Linked DNA regions of Homo sapiens. The protein of the gene in region 1 purifies or fractionates together with the protein of each later gene. This does not show direct contact. Each region holds a gene or a part of one and is shown on either strand. Other genes may lie near its edges. The genes, in order: LYRM7, NDUFAB1 and UQCRFS1.

Region 1 (7,110 bases):
AGGCTTAGTTGGCATAACTGCTGAGCCCCAGGGGTCAAGGCTTTAGTGGACCATGACCATGCCACTGCACTCCAACCTGGGTGACACAGCAGAACTCAATCTCAAAAAATAAATAAATAAATTAGCATATGCTATATAAGAATAGAGTGCGACATCTTTCAGAATTTTGTGACAGTCAAGCCTGTTGTTGACATGTTTATATACTTCACAGGAACTTTATTTATTTATTTATTTTTGAGACGGAGTTTCACTCTTGTTGCCTAGGCTGGAGTGCAATGGTGCGATCTCGGCTCACTGCAACCTCCGTCTCCTGGGTTCAAGCAATTCTCCTGCCTCAGTCTCCCGAGTAGCTGGGATTACAGACATGTGCCACCACACCTGGCTAATTCTGTATTTTTTTTAGTAGAGACAGGGTTTCCCCATGTTGGTCAGGCTGGTCTAGAACTCCTGACCTCAGGTGATCTGCCTGCCTCGGCCTCCCAAAGTGCTGGGATTACAGGCGTGAGCCACTGCGCCCAGCCAGGAACTTTCAGGAACTTTATTGTGTAGTCTTATGGCATGAAAGTACAATATCATATCTACCTATCTGTATCAATATATCTTTTTTTTTTCCTTTTTCCTTTTTTTTTCTTTTTTTTTTTTGAGACAGAGTCTCACTCTGTCCCCCAGGCTGGAGTGCAGTGGCACAATCTCAGTTCACTGCAACCTCCACCTCCCGGGTTCAAGTGATTTTCCTGCCTCAGCCTCCCGAGTAGCTGGGACTACAGGCGCCCGCCACCATACCTGGCTAATTTTTGTGTTTTTAGTAGAGATGGGGTTTCACCACATTGGCCAGGCTGGTCTCGAACTCCTGACCTTGTGATCTGCCCGCCTCAGCCTCCCAAAGTGCGGGATTACAGGTGTGAGCCACAGCGCCCGGGCCTATATCAATATATCTTAAAATTTCTAAGCCACTATCTTTAATAAACATGTGAATTATTAATCTCATCTGCTACTAATAATGACTATAAGAAAGAAATCTGGAGTTATTTAAATTAATATGAATGAAAAATGGAACAGGGAATTCAGGTTAAAGAAAAAAGCTCAGTGATAAAATATTCAATAACACTAAAATATAGAATATATATTAAATTTAAATAACGTCAGCCAACTTTCCTCAAAATATGTCATATAGACACTAAAATAACTGTAAGTCAGCACATTTATATAGTGATTATATACTGCGATGACATTCAGCATTCTCTTAAAAGGGCAAATTTCAAATTTGAAACGACTTTCATTTTTCTCTAGGTATAATTTCTAGATACATAACAATGCTTGCATTGAGAATCTTGCAAAAATTAAAAACCCTGTATCATCATCAAATGAGAGAATTTATCAGTGAATGGGAGAAAACATACTATTCACTGAGAAAATAGAATGGCAAAGATACACAGATAAAAGAGAAACAAGAAGAATATTAAACAGTATTTTACAGTTCCTAGTGTTAGATGGTAGAATGCCAGGACCTTTTGTGATACTGCCCATCTTGTCAAGGACAGGACATGTGGAAGAAGAGAAGCCATTTAAGTTTCATTAATTAAAACGATGAGAATGTAGCCACCGATTACATTTCACACTAAAGTCTAACTTTGTCTAAATACAGCTAATTCTACTAAGGCCATATTAAATAGTTTGATCAAGGGCCACTATTTCCTCTTTAAACTAGGATTTCTTTATTCCATAGTGACCCTAGGTGACTATAATATTTTATTCATCTATTTTCAGAAAACTGATAAAAAATGTCTTCATAAGAACACAGAGATACTCTCTATCTCTAAAAAGAAACTGTACAATTATATATTAGCTACAGAAATAATCCCAGTGCTTTAGAAAACAAAGGCCACTTTCTGTAGAGAGCTGGCATACACTGTGATTTTTTTGACCAATTTAATATTTTTCAGGACTAAATATCATTTTAATCTAACAATTTAAATGTAATAATTGCATTTCACATGGCAGGAAAACTCACCAATTTGTAAAAGCACCACATTCTCAAATAGCTATGGTAAGATCAAATACTCATCAAGGTCAAAGATTGAATATATCTCCCTAAGCATTTACTTTGCTTTATGAAATTTGATTTTCAATGAAAATGAAATGTTTTCTTATCTAATTTCCTTTAGAAATACTTAATTATGTTCTTTAGTTCTCAGTAATGACCTTTTAACATGAAATTTAAATATGAAGCTATTCTGTAATTCATTCATTTTCAATATGCCAGTTCAGGGAAAATGTCTGCATTTCCAGGACTTTTGCCAGAGTTGTAGATTTTAAAGTTAAAAAGTACAAAGACTTGTTGTATTCTAGAAAACTCATTGCTTCTGAGTTGGTGCATCACAATATGGCACATTTTCTACAAGAAGGTCTTTCCTAGGGACCAGTTCTGAAAGAAAAAAAAAAAAGAGAATAATTAACATCACTAAAATTAGAATTAAATGCAAGGACACTCATTTCCCCCTAAAATTTAAAATAGTAAAATATCCAGTTTTAAGATAAATCTTCCAGGGATATTTTATTTCAGTTGATATCTAAGGTGGCATCCTTGACTCTAATTAGAATTAATAGCATTCTCATTTCAGATTATATAAAAACATATATGATCCACTTAACCCTTTATCATTAAATATAGCAAATCAAATAACTGAAGAGAATTCAGCTAAAACTTCTATTATTGGTCATTTAATTACCAATTACTGATAATGAAAACAACTGGAAATTTTGCTTATACTATCTACTATATGAAAAGCAAGACTGGTCTCCTAATTTAAAGATTCTAAATTTTAAATAACAATTGTTCTTAAAAGAGGGTGTTTTGTGTGGTCATATCAACTGGAGAATGCTACTGGAATTTAGTGGGCAGGAGCCAGGGATGCTAAACCTTCTGTAATGGGTGGAACAGTCTGGCATAGTGAAGAACTGTCCTGTCAAAAATGCCAATAGTGCCCACATTGAGAAATATCATAAAACAACAACAAAAACCTGTTGAGTCCTAGGTAAGACATCTTGCTGGAGTTAAGATAAAGCTCTTAAGATACAAATTTTTGGCCGGGTGTGGTGACTCACGGCTGTAATCCTAGAACTTTGGGAGGCTAAGGAGGGATGATCATTTGAGGTCTAGAGTTGGAAACTAGCCTGACTAACATGGTGAAACCCCATCTCTACTGAAAAAAAAAAAAAAAATCAGCTGGGTGTGGTGGTGCATGCCTGTAATCCCAGCTACTCAGGAGAATGAGGCACAAGAATCGCTTGAACATGGGAGGCGGAGGTTGCAGTGAGTGAGCCGAGATGGTGCCACTGCACTCCAGCCTGGGGGACACAGTGGCAGTCCACCTCAAAAAAAAAAAATTCCAAATTTTTGAGGAGATACATTGATTTCTTCTTCTTTTCTCCAGAAGAGCTGAACCTAGATGAGCTATCAATCAAAAAATGCTTGCACGACCTTCTACAAAATAACCTGCCTATACTTTTCAAAACATCATGGACATGAAAGACGAAGAAAGACTGAAGGACTGCTCTAGATTAAGGATACCTAAAGAGACATGATGACTACATGCAATGTGTGATCCCCAATAGGATACTGGTCCACAGGGAATTTTTTTTCCTTTTGCCATAAAATACATTATTAGGACAAATGGAAAGATTAAATGATAGCATTGCATCAATATTAATACCCTGGTTTTGGTCATTATATTGCAGTTACATTAGAGAATGTCCTTGTATATTTAGGAAATACACACTGAAGTATCTTAAAAAAATATACTCTAAGGTATTTCTCCAGGAGATCTAGACCCAAATGGGCTGTCATAATTCTAAAAATGTTCATTTGGGGTAAATAGGCATTATGTCTGCAACTTACTCTCAGAAAGTTCAGGAAAAAAAAATGAGGGAAACACAATAAGGCAAATATGGTAAAATGTTAGCATTTGTAGAATCTGGGTAAAGGAAATTCTCATACCCTTCAACTTTTGCACTTTTTTTGTAAATCTGAATTATTTCAAAATAAAAAGGTTTTAAAAATATATATATTTACACACACACACACACACACACACACACACACACACACAGTGGCCAGATGCAGCGGCTCATGCCTGTAATTCTGGCACTTTGGGAAGCTGAGGTGGGAAGATTGCTTGAGGCCAGGAGTTTGAGACCAGCTTGGGAAACACAGCGAGACTCTGTCTCTACAAAAAATTGTTTAAAAATTAGCTAGGCATGGTGGTGCACACCTGTATTCCTAGCTACTCAAGAGGCTGAGGCAGGAGGATTGCTTGAGCCCAGGAGTTTGAGATTACAGTGAGCAATAATTATGCTACTGCACTCCAGCCTGGGAGACAGACTCTCTCTCTCAAAAAAAAAAAAAAAAAAAAAAGACAGAAGACAACACTAAAACAAATTCAACCCAAAAGGCAAACTGAATATTTCACTTAATTAAGAAAGAACTGGTCTGACTAAGAATAGTGCTCTTATTAGCCAGATGATAAATTTGGCTTACTGAAATGAAAACCAGTTAAATAAGTATTATTTAACCATTGTTTATATCTCACTTGCTTTTACCAAACCTATGGAGATTTCATCAGAGAATAAATTGTAGTGTGCATTTTAACTTGTTAACAATGGCAATAATTTGTTTCACTTATCAAACCTATATGTGCCTATTTCATGCTAGACATTACATCAAGAAATTAAGATATGAAGGTGAATATATAATAGTCTCTTCAGCTTCCAGAAACTCACAATCTAATGGAAAAGATAGCTAGATAAACAACAAATTATAGTATAATGTCATGTGTTACAAAAGTGGAACAAGACTTTTATGGGAGAATGGAAAAATAAATGGTTAAATATACCCATATCACTTTAGAGTATGTTCAGTTCTGAATAACCAAAGTCCAAAAGCTGGTTTAAATAAGTAAGAGATTTAATTTTTCTCACATTATCAATAAATACAGATTAAAGGACAGGCATGGTGGCTCATGCTTGTAATCACAGCACTTTGGGAGGCCGAGGTGGGCGGATCACAAAGTCAGGAGTTCGAGACCAGCCTGGCCAACACAGTGAAACCCTGTCTCTACTAAAAATACAAAAATTAGCTGGGCGTGGTGGCAGGCACCAGCTACCAGGGAGGCTGAGGCAGGAGAATCGCTTGAACCCAAAGGCAGAGGTTGCAGTGAGCCGAGATCGTGCCACTGTACTTCAGCCTGGGCGACAGAGCTAGACTCCATCTCGGAAAAAAAAAAAAAGAAATACAGATTAAGGCAGTTCTGGGCTAGTGCTTGTCCTTAGTGATACTAAGGACCCAGGCTCTTTCTCTCTTCCTGTTCTGCTACCTTCCATGAGTGGTTTTGTCTTCACTGCTGCTTGTCATATCACATCTGCACTCCAGATGGGAAGAAGAGAGAAAAGGGCAAAAGGAGAGTGCCAGCTCAGCCTGCTCCTTTTAAACAGGAAAACAATGACTTTCTTGGAAGTAACACCGAATAGACACGGTTTATATAGACCAGAAAGGTGTCACATGGTCTGGAAAATAACTTTTTTTTTGCTTGGTACATTGCACCCTGAACACAATTTCTCAGTTAGTAAAAAAGAACAGGAGAAGCCAAGCACGGTGGTTCACACCTATACTCCTAGTACTTTAGGAGGCCGAGGTGGTTGGATTGCCCGAGCGGTAGTCCCAGCTATTCAGGAGGTGTGAGGCATGAGAATCGCTTGAACCCGGGAGGCTGAGGTTGCAGTGAGCCAAGATCGTGCCACTGCACTCCAGCCTGAGCGACAGAAGGACACTCTATCTCCAAAAAAAAAAAAAAAAAAGAACAGGAGAATAGATACTGGAGAGGCAACAAGCACAACCCCTTTGGCTATGCAAAATGCATATAAATCCTTCTTTCCATCTGTAGCATACATCCACTCACTACCTGTCCCCTCAGGTCTCATCTAGACTGAAATCAAGGATGTTTGGTTACAGTGCTAGTGTTTCCATTAGGTCCTGCTGAGCCTCATTGTTCTAAGGTGGAGATACTGGGGAAGATGCCCTTCTTTGGGGCTTTAAAAGCTTTCATAGTCTACTTCCTGGTGATAGGAGTTTAGGGGCCCAGGGGTGGCCTTAAGAGGTGAAAAGAGCTAGCCAGGCCTGGAGTTTCTTGGCAATACAATTCACTCAAAAACTTTATAAGCTTCAAATTGGTTTCCAGTCATTTCCATGCACAAGTAGCCACAGAAAAATAAGGATGAAGACTGTCATCCTTTGGTAGCAGCCTCTACGTTCTGCCCATCTCCTTAACCCTTACCTTAGGGGCCACTTCTTAAAGCAATGAAGAATAGTAAGTTCCAGTCAGTAAATGAATCATATATCTAATCTTTGTCTGGAAGAATGAGAAAGTCTTGAGGCATCGATCTTATTTCATGTTACAGCTCAGAATTTCCCTGCTTGTACTGGCTTTAGTTTTAGTGGATAAGAACAATTAGCATTTTTAACTCTCCAAGGCTCTAAATTATGGGACTCTTAATCAATTAGACTCTAGGCTGTAGACAGAATTGTGCCTTTTAGCAAAGTAATACTTTTTTCTATCTCTGCTTTGTGGGCTAGCTTAATCTGCATTCAACCTCTTTTTCAATTTTATTTATCATTATTATTATTTTTTGAGACAGAACCTTGCTCTGTCTGTCGCCCAGGCTGGAGTGCAGTGGCTGTGATCTCGGCTCACTGCAACCTCTGCCTCCCATGTTCAAGCAATTCTCCTGCCTCAGCCTCCCGAGTAGCTGGGATTACAGGCGCCCACCACCATGCCTGGCTAATTTTTATATTTTTCAGTAGAGACGGGGTTTCACCATGTTGGCCAGGGGGCTGGTCTCAAACTCCTGACCTCAGGTGATCTGCCCACCTCAGCCTCCCAAAGTGCCGGGATAACAGGTGTGAGCCAGCGATCCCGGCCAATTTTATTTTGCCTAACTCATATCACCAGGAAGTGGACTATAAAAGCTTTAACTGTTGGTCTTTGTTACTAGTCACAGAAGCAGCCTCTGGCTGCTTAGAAGCTGGAAAGGCATTAAACAGGTTGTTTCAAATTG
Region 2 (7,408 bases), on another chromosome or scaffold:
AGGTAGGAGGACAAACCAACCAAGGGAGAACAGTGTCACAACAGCCTAGGGAAGAAGACAGCAGCAGAGAAGGAGCCAGCAAGTTGGACATAAGGGCTGCAAAGCGTTCAATGAAGATGTAAGCTAATGTCTTCCTTTTGTATCCATCTCTGTATCTCTCAACAGCTAGCATGAGTCCTGGCACACAGCTGGCCCTCAATATCTTTGAATGAACTTAGTCAAAACCACTTTGTAAATATAAATAAAATGGTTCCTCTGCTATATATGCAAGCCAAGCCGCCATAGTGGAACATTTCTGAGCTCCTTGCCATTCAAAGCATGGTCCAAGGAACACCCGCAGCAGGATCTTCTGGAAGCCCACTGGAGGTGGAAACTCTCTGGCCCCTTCCCAGAACTGAATCAGAATCTGTATTCCAGCCTAAGTGATCTGTATGTCCAATCAACTGAGAATCAATGCTGTAAGAACAAAGACAGTCACTTCACATTTTAGCCCAATGTTGAAATCAATCTTAGGAACCAGACACTCATCAATTCTAACTACTGCCTTTTTAACCCTTATTTATTTATTTATTTATTTATTTATTTATTTATTTATTTATTTATTGAGATGGAGTCTGGCTCTGTCGCCCAGGCTGGAGTGCAGTGGCACGATCTCGGCTCACTGAAAGCTCTGCCTCCCGGGTTCATGCCATTCTCCTGCCTCAGCCTCCCGAGTAGCTGGGACTACAGGCGCCCGCCACCACGCCCGGCTAATTATTTTGTATTTTTAGTAGAGACGGGGTTTCACCGTGTTAGCCAGGATGGTCTCCATCTCCTGACCTCGTGATCCGCCCGTCTCGGCCTCCCAAACTGCTGGGATTACAGGCGTGAGCCATCGCGCCTGGCCTTTAACCCTTAATTTCAAGGTGACACTTTTCACCTTTTGATACAGCCAACAGGGCAGTGCCCAATGAATGAATCCATTACACTGTCAGTGAACAGCAACACTGGCTTCACAAAAGAAACACTTGATGACTTCTAAAAATAGTCGCCTAGTACTCACTTCTAGATTCTGTCGATCTGGCACGGGCTGGCTGGCTTATTTAAGACGGTCTGCCTCCCAGACTGGAGTGCAGTGGCATCATCTCAGCTCCCTAAAACCTCTGCCTCCTGGGTTCAATCGATCCTCCCACCTCAGCCTCCTGAGTAGCTGGGACTACAGGCGCGTGCCACCACGCCCGGATAATTTTTTGTATGTTTAGTAGAGACGGGGTTTCACTGTGTTAGCCAGAATGGTCTCGATCGCCTGACCTCGTGATCCGCCCGCCTCGGCATCCCAAAGTGCTGGGATTACAGGCATAAGCCACCGCGCCCGGCCTAATTTCTGTATTTTTTGTAGAGACGGGGTTCCACCATGTTGCCTAGGAGGGTCTCAAACTCCTGGGCTCAAGCGATTCGCCCGCCTCGGCCTCCCAAAGTGCTGGGATTACAGGCGTGAGCCACCACGCCTGGCCAGACACACTTATTTTTCACACTAACATGCAGTCAAGGTTGAAACCACTATTACCTGAAGTCTATGACTTTGAAAAGGGGTTTCATAACTTGACCTTGGGAGTCTATCCTACCTTAAGACGGTTATTTTTATTCCCAACTGCACTTCAGAGTCATCTGGAGAACTTAGAAAACAACAAAAAAAAGGCAGGGCGCGGTGGTTCACGCCTGTAATCCCAGCACTTTGGGAGGCCGAGGCGGGTGGATTGCGAGGTCGGGAGTTCAAGACCAACCTGGCCAATATGATGAAACCCCGTCTCCACTAAAAATACAAAACTTAGCCGGGCATGGTGGCGGGCGCCTGTAGTCCCAAATACTCGGGGGGGCTGAGGGAGGAGAATTGCTTGAACCTGAGAGGCGGAGGTTGCCGTTAGCCGGAGGTTGCAGTGAGCTGAGATCACGCCACTGCATTACAGCCTGGGTGACAGAGCGAGACTCTGTCTCAAAAACAACAACAACAACACCGAAATCACTGCCTCCCGGCGTTTCAGCCTCACGCAGATTTCATCAGCTCAAGCTATATACTACAGGTACAGTCGTTCCTTGGTATTTGCGCAGATTGGTTCCAGGACCCCCGACTATACCCAAATCCCCGCACACTCACGTCCCGCAGTCAGCCTTGCAGAATCCGCTTATAGGAAGAGCCTGCCCTCCTTATACGCGGGGCGGCACATCCCGTAAATACTGGTCGCGTTTGGTTGAAAAAAAATCCGCATATAAGTGGACCCGCGCAATTCAAATCCTTATTGGTCAAAGGTCACTTGGCTTGTTTCCTAGAATTACTTCCAGGAGTCCTGGACACAGGCAGAAGGTGCTGCAGGGAAGAGTAAGGACAGAACTGCAGAGAGAAAACCGCTCTGGAGAAGGCTGTAGGCCAGTGTGGCTGCCTCTTTGCATGCTGCTTTCACTACAATACGGTGACCGCTATTTTGAGACCGTACGAGGTGCTCTAGCCGCATTAACTCATCTAATCCTCATTGCTACTCCGCAAGGTAGAGACCAGGATCCCAATTTTGCAGGTGAGTGTGAGCCAGGCTAGGAGACTTGTCCAAAGTTTCGGTAAGCGGCAGCCCAGCAGTGCTGGACTCGAGTCAGTGCTCTTGCTCGTTATTACGAGGTCACCCGGCCTCCCGTCAGGGGTCAACTAAACACCTTTAGGCAGCGGGGCTGCGGAGCGAGCCGGCTGCCCCCCGGGTCACCCCTGCCTGCAGCTGGCGCGCCCCGGATGCCCGGCCCCCACCCCCACCGGGCCCAATCCCTGACCCTTGCCAAGCGGCAGCAAAGTCACCACGAGTCACCTGCGCGAGCACTAAGGCCGGCTGCAAAGTCCCGAGCCTCGTCTGGGTCCCCGCGGAGCAGAGAGCGGTGCTGAGAGGCCGGGCCACGGCCAGCATCCGGACCCGGGGCAGCGGCGCAAAGGCCGCGGGCAGGCGGCTGACATAGGCTGAAAGGACACGAGACGCCATGGCTACGCCAACCCAGGATGCACTGCGCCGCCGCCTCCGGACCAGGGTTCCTTTCCGGCGGCGCGCAGGCGACGCACACGGCAGCGCTGTCGGGCACCGCCGGCGGTGGCGGCCCCTGGCGGCTCCTGGAGGCACTGCGCCCTCGGAGCCCATCCAGGTTCGGGGACGAACAACTGCTTGGTGTCACAACTAAACTGTGCAGACGTCGCCGTCTTTCCCTAAACGACACGGCACGAGAAACCTACTTTCATTTTTTATCTGAAAGTTCTGAAATACATCTGTTTAAACGTTTGGGGCCGGGTGCGGTGGCTGACGCCTTTAATCCTAGCACTTTGGGAGGCCAAGGTGGCAGGACTGTTTGAGCTCAGGAGTTCAAGACCAACCTGGCCAACACGGCAAGACTCCGTCTCTATTACAAAAAAGATTAAAAGAAAAAAAGGACAAAGTTTTGATTCCACAATTCTTCCACAAGTATTAACATTTATTGAATAGGTAAAAAAATATATATAATAATGTGAAAAAATAATCAATTTCAATACCTAAGACTAATAAATGTGAGAATTACGATTAAAACAATATACATGTTTTAAAACTTGACAGTGTATAATATAGCTGTCAGGTCCACGACTATGCCAACTGTCATGCCCACAGCCAGGTTCCAGCCCATATCGAGGTCTGAGGGGAGTGGGTGGATGAACAGATAGCTGAAAGAACACTCAGGGGACGGTAGGCAGGTGAAAGATGATTTTATTCAGCAGCAGCTCTCATCAGCAGCTTACTTACACTAGTTCTCTCACACTGTCTGCCTTGTCTCAGCTGCTTAGTCCCATGGCTCCCCCACACAACTGCGAGGCTGGCTCTCCCTTGCCTTCAGGGTCAGCAGCTTAACTCTCTCTCAGCTGTGATCTGGCTCCCCCTGTCTGTCTGCAAAGACTGACAGCTCTGGCTCTCTCTTTCTCTGGGCACGAACGCCTGTACAGTATCAGCAGGGCAATTATACCTTTTACAGAAAATAGTGGCTTAGAGCCAAGTGATGACCTTCCCATGTTATGCCTACATGGCTGTGATAACAAGTGGAGTTATACGCCTCTGTCTAAACTTGCTGAGTCACGCAGGATGTAAACATCTTACCTTGGCCTATCCTTGACCAAAGCACAGCCATGTTCCTTACAATAGCTAACAAAAATAGGTAAGCGAGGGAGGAGTTTAAGAAGGCTAATTCCTATTTCTAAGCAGGGAGCTAAAGGATATTGACTGAAATGGAAACACACGGGATAATGACTCCAAATTCTGAAATCTGCCTGAATGAATGATCCAATAATGTCACCAGTTTTACCTCAATTTCTTTTTATTTTTGTTAAATCCAAGTAAAATAAAATGTAATGGTATGCTGCCAGGCGCGGTGGCTCATACCTGTAATCCCAGCACTTTGGGAGGCCAAGGTGGGTGGATCACGAGGTCAAGAGATCGAGACAATCCTGGTCAACATGGTGAAACCCCATTTCTACTAAAAATACAAAAATTAGTTGGGTGTGGTGGTGCGCGCCTGTAGTCCCAGATACTCAGGAGGCTGAGGCAGGAGAATCGCTTGAACTTGGGAGGCAGAGGTTGCAGTGAGCCGAGATTGCGCCACTGCACTCCAGGCTGGCAAAAGAGCAAGACTCCATCTCAAAAAAAAAAAACGAAAACAAAAAAAACATAGTTTCATCCCACTGTTGTAAAATAATTTCTATTTATTATAGCATTCCTTTAAAACTCGAGTGTCTGGGGGCCAGGCATGGTGGGTCAAACCTGTAATCCCAGCATTTTGGGAGGCTGAGGCAGGTGGATCACCTGATGTCAGGAGTTTGAGACCAACCTGGACAACATGGTGAAACCCCGTCTCTACTAAAAATACAAAAATTAGCTGGGTGTGGTGGCAGGTGACTGTAATCCCAGCTACTCAGGAGGCAGGAAGCTGAGACAGGAGAATTGCTTGAACCCGGGAGGTAGAGGTTGCAGGGAGCTGAGATCGCGCCATTGCACTCTAGCCTGGGCAACAAGAGTGAAGCTCCATCTCAAAAAAGTCTCAAAAAAAAATTGAGTATCTGTTACGTACTAATTGTTGAGGCTGCAACTGTGAGCAAGCCAGACAGGCAAGCCTGGTTCAGTGGCTCACCTCCGTAATCCCAGCACTTTGGGAGGCCAAGGGAGGTGGATCGCTTGAGCCCAGGAGTTTGAGATCAACCTAGGCAACACAGGGAGACCTTGTCTCCATAAAAAATTTAAAAAATTAGCCAGGCATGGTGATGCATGTCTGTGGTCCCAGCTGCTTGGGAAGCTGAGGTGGGAGGACCAATTGAGCCCAGGAGGTCAAGGCTGCAGTGAGCTATGATCACACCACTACACTCCAGCCTGGGCAACAGAGTGAGACTCTGTTTCCCAAAAAAATGTAGCTCTTAGCTTAGGAAGAACCTAATCCTACTAAGTTCACAATTGGGGCCATCTCTTCCCATGACCTATCTAGTCTTTCAGTGTTACACGTATGTATGTATATATGTATGTATGTATGTATTTATAGAGATGGGGTTTCACCGTGTTAGCCAGGGTGGTCTCAAACTCCTGACCTCATGATCTGCCCGCCTCGGCCTCCCAAAGTGCTGGGATTACAGGCGTGAGCCACTGCACCCGGCCTCAGTGTTACATTTAATCCTTTTGGTAAAACATAACAAATCATCTCTTATTTAAATAATTTGGGAGAGCTACTTTTCCCTTCAGCAAACAAATAAAGACAAAATATCAGCCTACATGGCCTGTAGGGTAAAAGTCCCAATATTAAGATCACATCCTTAGCAGATGAGGAAGAGTTAAAAGACAACACCGGTGCTTTTCAGTAACATTCCCATCAAAGGATGGATAAGCATAAAAGCTGTCAGCTTCCCAGCACAAACTATCCCACCAACCCACCATGATCGCTCCCTCTGCCAGCCCATTTGCACGGTAGTCTCATCCCCTCTTATTCCCAATGGGACCTTATACCACCAGTTAGCTCTTCTTCCCTACATCTCAAAGGTCTCTCTTCTGGCTCTTTCTCCTGAACCCATAAACACATCAAAGTTCCTCTTAGCCTAAAAACAAAGTAAGAGGACCCTCCGCTGACCCTTTATAGATCTCTAATACCATTCCTCCTACCTTTCATAGACAAGCTGTTACATGTGGGGAAAAGCAAGAGAGATCAGATTGTTACTGTGTCTGTGTAGAAAGAAGTAGACATAGGAGACTCCATTTTGTTATGTACTAAGAAAAATTCTTCTGCCTTGAGATTCTGTGACCTTACCCCCAACCCCGTGCTCTCTGAAACATGTGCTGTGTCAACTCAGAGTTGAATGGATTAAGGGCGGTGCAAGATGTGCTTTGTTAAACAGATGCTTGAAGGCAGCATGCTCCTTAAGAGTCATCACTACTCCCTAATCTCAAGTACCCAGGGACACAAAAACTGCGGAAGGCCACAGGGACCTCTGCCTAGGAAAGCCAGGTATTGTCCAAGGTTTCTCCCCATGTGATAGTCTGAAATATGGCCTCGTGGGAAGGGAAAGACCTGACCGTCCCCCAGCCCGACACCCGTAAAGGGTCTGTGCTGAGGAGGATTAGTAAAAGAGGAAGGAATGCCTCTTGCAGTTGAGACAAGAGGAAGGCATCTGTCTCCTGCCTGTCCCTGGGCAATGGAATGTCTCGGTATAAAACCCGATTGTATGCTCCATCTACTGAGATAGGGAAAAACCGCCTTAGGGCTGGAGGTGGGACCTGCGGGCAGCAATACTGCTTTGTAAAGCATTGAGATGTTTATGTGTATGCATATCTAAAAGCACAGCACTTAATCCTTTACATTGTCTATGATGCAAAGACCTTTGTTCACGTGTTTGTCTGCTGACCCTCTCCCCACAATTGTCTTGTGACCCTGACACATCCCCCTCTTCGAGAAACACCCATGAATGATAAATAAATACTAAGGGAACTCAGAGGCTGGCGGGATCCTCCATATGCTGAACGCTGGTTCCCCGGGTCCCCTTATTTCTTTCTCTATACTTTGTCTCTGTGTCTTTTTCTTTCCTAAGTCTCTCATTCCACCTTACGAGAAACACCCACAGGTGTGGAGGGGCAACCCACCCCTACAGTTACACTTTTTCTTTTTGTCATTGTTTGAGACAGAGTCTCGCTCTGTCGCCCAGGCTGGAGTGCAATGGTGCGATCTTGGCTCACTGCAACCTCTGCCTCCTGGGTTCAAGCGATTCTCTGCCTCAACCTCCCGAGTAGCTGAGACTATAGGCGCCTGCCACCACTCCCGGCTAATTTTTGTATTTTTAGTAGAGACTGGGTTTCACCATTTTGGCCAGGCTGTCCTTTCTGCCCAGAATATCCGTTGCTTCTGCTTT
Region 3 (7,103 bases), on another chromosome or scaffold:
GGAGATTCCCCTGCATATCAGTGTTCTGCTACTCTCCGGAATCAATCGATCATGCTTGTGCAAGGAATTATATAAACCTGAGGTCCCAAACTCGAGGCCTCAGCAGATGGGCAGGTAATGTAACTGAATGGACACAGTGGGAAAGGACCCAGACCACCAAGCAGGTACCTACCCTGGCTGACAGCACCCCACCGTCTTTCTCTTTGTTGAGGACATGGGCCTCGAGTGGCTTAAAATAATGCAATTTTATTATTTTACAATTCTGGAGGTCTGAAGCCTAACACAGGTCTGTAGGGCTGCACTTCTTCTGGAGACTCTAAGGGAGAAGGTTTCCTTTCCATTTCCAGCTCTATCTCTGCCTGCAGGTCCCTCCTCTGGCCCCACCCTCAAAGCCAGCAATGTGGCATTTCTGTCCTCTCACCTCTTGCTTCCCTCTTCTAAGACCCTATGAACATGCCGCACCCACCCGGACACTGCAGGAAGACTCTCTGATATGGTTTGGCTCTGTGTCCCCACCCAGATCTCACCTTGAATTGTTACAATCCCCTTGAATTGTAACAAGGGGGGGACCAGGTGGAGGTGATGGATCATGGGGGCGGTTTCCCCCATGCTGTTCTCATGACAGTGAGTTCTCATGAGATCTGACAGTTTTATAAGGGGTTCCCCCTTCGCTCTGCTCTTATTTTCTCTCCTGCCACCCTGTGAAGAGGTGCCTCCTACCATGATTGTAAATTTCCTGAGGGCGCCCCCCCAACCAGCCGTGCTGAGCTGTAAGTGAATTAAACCTCTTTTCTTTGTAAATTACCCAGTCTCAGGTATTTCTTCATAGCCGCATGACAACAGACTAATACACTCTCCCTATCTCAATCTCCAATCACAGCTGCAACATTCCTTTGCTGTGTAAAGTAACATATTCCCAGGTTCCAGGGATTAGGCTGTGGACATTTTTGTGGGGAGGCATTATTCCATCTACCACAGTTTGTATGTGGGAGTACTCACAATTTGTAAATGCTAGCAAATAATTCTGAGGTTCATAGCACTGTGTATGCCAGATCACCAGGTGTCTCTGGGCAGAAATGAGTGGGGAGAGAATGAATCTCCAGTCCATGACTTCCGACCTCTGATTTAAACAGTGTTTGTTAAAAGGAAGGCTTGGTGTCATGCTTCCTCCTGCCTTGTTCATACATACACATTGCGTGTCAGACTTCCAGGGAACTGAGAAGCTTACCAAGCATTTATGTTCCCAGGCCTGTGGCTATTTTTTTCCCTCAGTTTACAAAACTAACAATGTTTATTAAGCTCTCATTGTATGCCAGTGTGCTAAATATCTCACATGGATTCTTTCTTTTAATTTGCACAGCAATGTCATTTTTATCCCTGTTTTACAAATAAGAAATCTGACACTCAGTAACGTTGCCCGATGTCACACAGGTAGTAAGGGGCAGAGCTGCCATGAAGGCCAGGCTGTCTGGCTCCAGAGTGAGCTGATACATGAAAGCTAAAACCCCCTTCAGTTAAATAACAACCACTGAGGGGTTGCAGTGGTGTGTACCTGTAGTCCCAGCTACTCTGGAGGCTAAGGGAGGAGGACTGCTTCAGGCCAGGAGTTTGAGACCAGCCTGGGCAACACAGCAAGACCCCCATCTACCAAGTGGAACCCAGGTTGGCCTACAGAAGTCCAAGTTCCAGTATGCCTGCCACTCCTGGACATTGGCCTCCTTCTTCCACGAGAAGACAGCTGTTCGGCCATACAGTTACCCATCTCTCTGCTGCAACGCTGGACTCGAACACCACTACCAGATGCGTTCTTATCAATGTGTCTTTGGGCATGTCATTTGTCTTCTCTGAGTCTTAGTTTCTTCATCTAGAAAATAGAAAGTTATTATTATTGCAGATATTTACATACTGTGTGCCAGGCACAGTTCTAGGCATTTTACATGTATTAATCCATCTCATCCTTAAAATAACTCTCTAGGGTAGATCCTGTTATTATCTCTGTTTTACAAGAGAAAGACGGAGGCACACACAGAGATTAAATAACTTGCCCTAGGGCACAGCTAGTGAGTGGTGAAACTAAAATTGAACCCAGGAGGTCTGGAGATAATTCCTATTCTGTTCACCCAACTGGGACATTGTGAAGGTTTTGTGAAGGATCATTCATTCATTCATTCATTTTTCATTTCCTTACCAACTCAGAGGGAATTGTGATATTATTTCTTGTGAAGCACTCAAACCATGCATGCTGTGTGACAACTTCTCTGGAAATGTCTTTTATCCTAAGGTTGTTGCCAAGGGAGAGCACTGAGCCAGCTGTGTGATGAGCCTGGCTAGGGTGGCCCCTGAGGAGGCAGCCTCCAATCTTGAGAGTACAATATAGTCCCTTGGGCTATAAGGCTGGTCAAAGCCTAGGCCCTAAGGGGAGTCATAGGAAGGTCAAAGGGGAAACCTGTCAGTACACTTTGGACCTGGCATGAGGAATAACAACGAGTCAGCAAGGATCAAGGGAAGGCTTCTTAGAGGAGGTGGCATCTCAGATAAAAACACCACTAGCAAATCCTCACTTGGTGCTGCCTGTGTGCTGGGCCTGCTTGTAGATGCTTTACACGTTTTAGTTCATTTACTCCTCCCAGTAACTTTACAACACACATGGCATCATTACTGCCCCCATTTGGCAGGTGAGGAAACTGAGGCACAGAGAGGTGAGGGAACTTGCCCAGATCACAGAGCCCATGCACAGCACAGAGCCAATTCTGTGCACTGCTTATATTAACATTTACTTAATATTTAAATTATTTTTGACCTAAATGAAAAACTTTATCTCAGTATAGTACAGAATAGAAAACCAGTATGGATAGAAAATCAATACTATGAACCATATAATGAAATCACTCTAGACTCAGTTCTCTGCTAAGAGCTTCTAACTCAAGATCTTTTCTGTTAAAAGTGGGAGATAAGTGTAGAGAGGAATTAAAGATATATTAGGATCAAACTGAGGCCAAGTGAATTTGCTCATGCCTATAATCCCAGTACTTTGGGAGGGGGAGACAGGACTCCTTGAGGCCAGAAGTTCGAGACTGGAGTGGGCAATATAGTGAGACCTCATCTCTACTTTTTTTTTTTTTTAATTAAAGATGTATTAGCACCAAACTGAGACTTTCTCATTGGTGCAATCAGGATTGAAAAACAAAACAAAAGAAAACAAAACTTTCTCACTATGTGATGGAACATGAATGAGCGAGCTCTGTGCATCCTCTAAAATTCTAAAATCCTACTTTGGGAAACAGTGGTGGCACTGAAGAGCATAGACTCAGGAGACAGATTACCCTGCTTCACATCTTGCTGGCTATCCAGTTCCTGGAAAAGAATCTCTCTAAACCTCGGTTTCTTCATGGGTAAAATGCTGATAGTAATAGCTCTGACTTCATAGAGACCTTGATAACAAATGAAAGAACGTAGGTATAATAAAACGCAAAACCAAATACACAGTGAATACTTAATAAACATAATCCATTAGCATTATCGAGCTTTGCACAGATGCCTCTGGCCTTTTTGTTGTTGTTGTTGTTAGATGAAGATAATAAAAATCATCATAGTAAACACATAGCGATTACTATGTGCTGGACTTCGTCGTAGTTGAGATATATTACCATCCTAAGTTAAACTATAATCGTTTATTGTTATCTCTAGGTCTTCCTAGATGAAATTTTTACCCTAAAGGATCGTAAAGTCGGCCCACCGGACGTCAGTGGGGTCCCCTGTTCAGCCCTCTCGTTCTTCTGGGGATCTCTCGGGACACTGACGAGGTGGCACCGGGACCTACAGGTGGGCCGCAAGCCCCGCCCCCAGCGACGGCTTGTAGCCCCGTCCCCCGACGCAGCGCCTCTCCAAGTTTGCCCCGCCCTGCAGGACTGCAGAATTTCCTTTCCGGCGGCGCGCTGTCGTCACGCGTCCCGCGCCTCCTCGCGCCTGCGCCGTGGTTGGAAGGTCGTCCCTGTGACCGGCTTGGCGGTTGGAGCGGCTGTCGCCATGTTGTCGGTAGCATCCCGCTCAGGCCCGTTCGCGCCCGTCCTGTCGGCCACGTCCCGCGGGGTGGCGGGCGCGCTGCGGCCCTTGGTGCAGGCCACGGTGCCCGCCACCCCGGAGCAGCCTGTGTTGGACCTGAAGCGGCCCTTCCTCAGCCGGGAGTCGCTGAGCGGCCAGGCCGTGCGCCGGCCTTTGGTCGCCTCCGTGGGCCTCAATGGTGAGCCGGGGCGAGGGCCGCGAGCAGGGCTGGGGGTCTCTCGGTGCCCGCTCCTCCGGCCCCCAGCAGGGAGCGGCCGCGGGCGCGCGAGCGGAGCCTGAATCAGGTCGGGCTGGGCGGCCTCCGCAACTCTGGGCCTGGCCCCCGGGCTCGGGGCGTCTTTCTGGTGGCCGGCCTGGACTCGCGTCCGCCGGCTTCGCCTGGTTCCTCCTCGGCCGAGTTCACGAGCTCTGTAGTCCCGCTGTTCCAGCCACCTCTGAGGGGTTTTGTTGCTTGCAGGTCGTTTGACCTTGGGCGAGTTTCTAAACGTACTTCCTGTGAAATGGATTCATATCTTTATCAATTTTGTAGGGGTGTCGTGAGGCTTAGGTGGAGGAATTCTACGTAAAGCCGTTAGCACAGTTTGGGCACTTACATGCTTAAGAAATGGAAACTTACTAATATTTGGGAAGTTGGTCTTCTCACCACTACCGATCCCTTCATGTCCTTCCCCTTCATCACCCCCCCACCAAAAAAAAAACAAAAAAAACATACACAAGGTCAGTTACAGTGTAGTGTCACAACATAATCAGTCGTCAAGGACGGGCAGAGATTGACGACATTTACATTTTACAGATGAGAAAACAGACGAGGTAGAATGACTCGCACCAGGATCCGTGGTGTGGACATGTGGTAGCAGGGATTTGACAAGACGAATTGTCGTAGCCACTGAGCTCTTCGCAGGGGCTATTCCACACCCTCTGTCCTTAGATCCCCGTTTATCTTCTTTGCCTCGCCTTCCATCTTTACTTGGCCCTGTATCGGAGATAGAGAAATGGCAGCCTGTGGGCAGTGTGTCTGCAGGCTGTGTAGTTTTCAAAAAAACTGGGAAGACTAATGGCATCTCTTAAAATGCTGGAAGCCGGTAATACTGGGATCTAGTTTCTACTTGGGAAAATTCCATAGTGTGCTGTGTAGTGGCCGCCCCCGCAGTTGGAGCAAGTGGTCTTCTCCAGTTTGTCACAGTCTTTACCAGGTCTGCGTGTTTCATTCTGTTACCAGCCTGGCTCCACTGATAGCTGTTTGTGACTCTTCCCCTACACGCTAACCAAATTGCCCGCCACTTTTCTTTTTACTCTGTCTTCATTCACCCTGGGCTCTGCACTTTCTTCATGGTCCTTCCACTAAGTTGCTACATGTCCATATGTTTTCCTTACCCATCTTTTCAATCTCAGTTAAGGATCAGGTGAATAAAGTTTTTATTTGCTGATTTGTCTGTCTCTGTAGCACATACACTTTACACTCTGTATTGTGTTTATTGGTAACTCCTCCACCCTTGGGCTTAAGGGCATAGAGAAGGTAATATCTTCTTTATTTTTCTATCTTTCACAACGTCGGATTTTGTATACAGTTAGTGCAAAGTATTTGTGAATGAATATTTGTTAAGGAGCATCAGTGGGTTTTGAAGAAACTGTCCATGGCAGGTGTAGAGTACCCTAGCCCATCCTTGGGACCTGGAGGTGAGAAGGAAGGAAGGAGAACATTTCAATAGCAAAAGAAAAGCATCTTTGGAATTCGTCGTGTTGCTAAAGTTTCTTCAAAAAATTGGAGGCTTACATTTCTCTGATGGCCAGTGATGCTGAGCATTTTTTCATGTGTTTTTTGGCTGCATAAATGTCTTCTTTTGAGAAGTGTCTGTTCATGTCCTTCGCCCACTTTTTGATGGGGTTGTTTGTTTTTTTCTTGTAAATTTGTTTGAGTTCATTGTAGATTCTGGATATTAGCCCTTTGTCAGATGAGTAGGTTGCAAAAATTTTCTCCCAATTTTTAGGTTGCCTGTAAACCACAATGAGATACCATCTCACACCAGTTAGAATGGCAGTCATTAAAAAGTCAGGAAACAACAGGTGCTGGAGAGGATGTGGAGAAATAGGAACACTTTTACACTGTTGGTGGGACTGTAAACTAGTTCAACCATTGTGGAAGTCAGTGTGGAGATTCCTCAGGGATCTAGAACTAGAAATACCATTTGACCCAGCCATCCCATTACTGGGTATATACCCAAAAGACTATAAATCATGCTGCTATAAAGACACATTTACATGTATGTTTATTGGGGCACTATTCACAATAGCAAAGACTTGGAACCAATCCAAATGTCCAACAATGATAGACCGGATTAAGAAAATGTGGCACATATACACCGTGGAATACTATGCAGCCATAAAAAATGATGAGTTCATGTCCTTTGTAGGGACATGGATGAAATTGGAAATCATCATTCTAAGTAAACTGTCGCAAGGACAAAAAACAAACACTGCATGTTCTCACTCATAGGTGGGAATTGAACAATGAGAACACATGGACACAGGAAGGGGAACATCACACTCTGGGGACTGTTGTGGGGTGGGGGGAGGGGGAGGGATAGCATTGGGAGATATACCTAATGCTAAATGATGAGTCAATGGGTGCAGCACACCAGCATGGCACATGTATACATATGTAACTAACCTGCACATTGTGCACATGTACCCTAAAACTTAAAGTATAATAAAAAAAAAATTGGAGGTTTACCTGACTTAGAGAAACTATTTTTAGAAACAGGCAAATAATGTAGAACCATAAGGCAAAAACCTTTTCTGTAATCATTTCAGCCTGTAATTTAAGTTCACATTATAGTCTGTCTAGATGGTTCATGGCAGGATGGCTTATGGGAGTGGAGGGGTTGGATCTGGAGAAGATTCTTGAATTGGAGAGGAAGGTTGTACTATTTTCATGCAGATTTCCAAGGCGCATTGGAGCTCAACCTTAAAATAAAACTTGTTTTGTTAAAATTCCTTAAATTTTCTCCTTTAAGTATTTGATTTTGCTTTAGGTTAGAATT

What was found.
Region 2: the proteins of LYRM7 (region 1) and NDUFAB1 purify together in Homo sapiens (affinity purification with mass spectrometry; 4 studies listed by BioGRID and IntAct, with this or other methods). This does not show direct contact.
Region 3: the proteins of LYRM7 (region 1) and UQCRFS1 purify together in Homo sapiens (co-immunoprecipitation; 5 studies listed by BioGRID and IntAct, with this or other methods). This does not show direct contact.

What each region holds. Positions count from the first base shown.
Region 1 is NC_000005.10:131,194,846-131,201,955, reverse strand, and holds part of LYRM7 (complex III assembly factor LYRM7), read right to left. Parts: intron 2,426-7,110; coding exon 2,355-2,425; 3' UTR 1-2,354.
Region 2 is NC_000016.10:23,593,295-23,600,702, forward strand, and holds the start of NDUFAB1 (acyl carrier protein, mitochondrial precursor), read right to left. Parts: upstream 3,023-7,408; 5' UTR 2,997-3,022; coding exon 2,829-2,996; coding exon of another isoform or gene 2,794-2,828; intron 1-2,793. UniProt on the Homo sapiens protein: Carrier of the growing fatty acid chain in fatty acid biosynthesis.
Region 3 is NC_000019.10:29,210,042-29,217,144, reverse strand, and holds the start of UQCRFS1 (cytochrome b-c1 complex subunit Rieske, mitochondrial), read left to right. Parts: upstream 1-3,993; 5' UTR 3,994-4,026; coding exon 4,027-4,240; intron 4,241-7,103.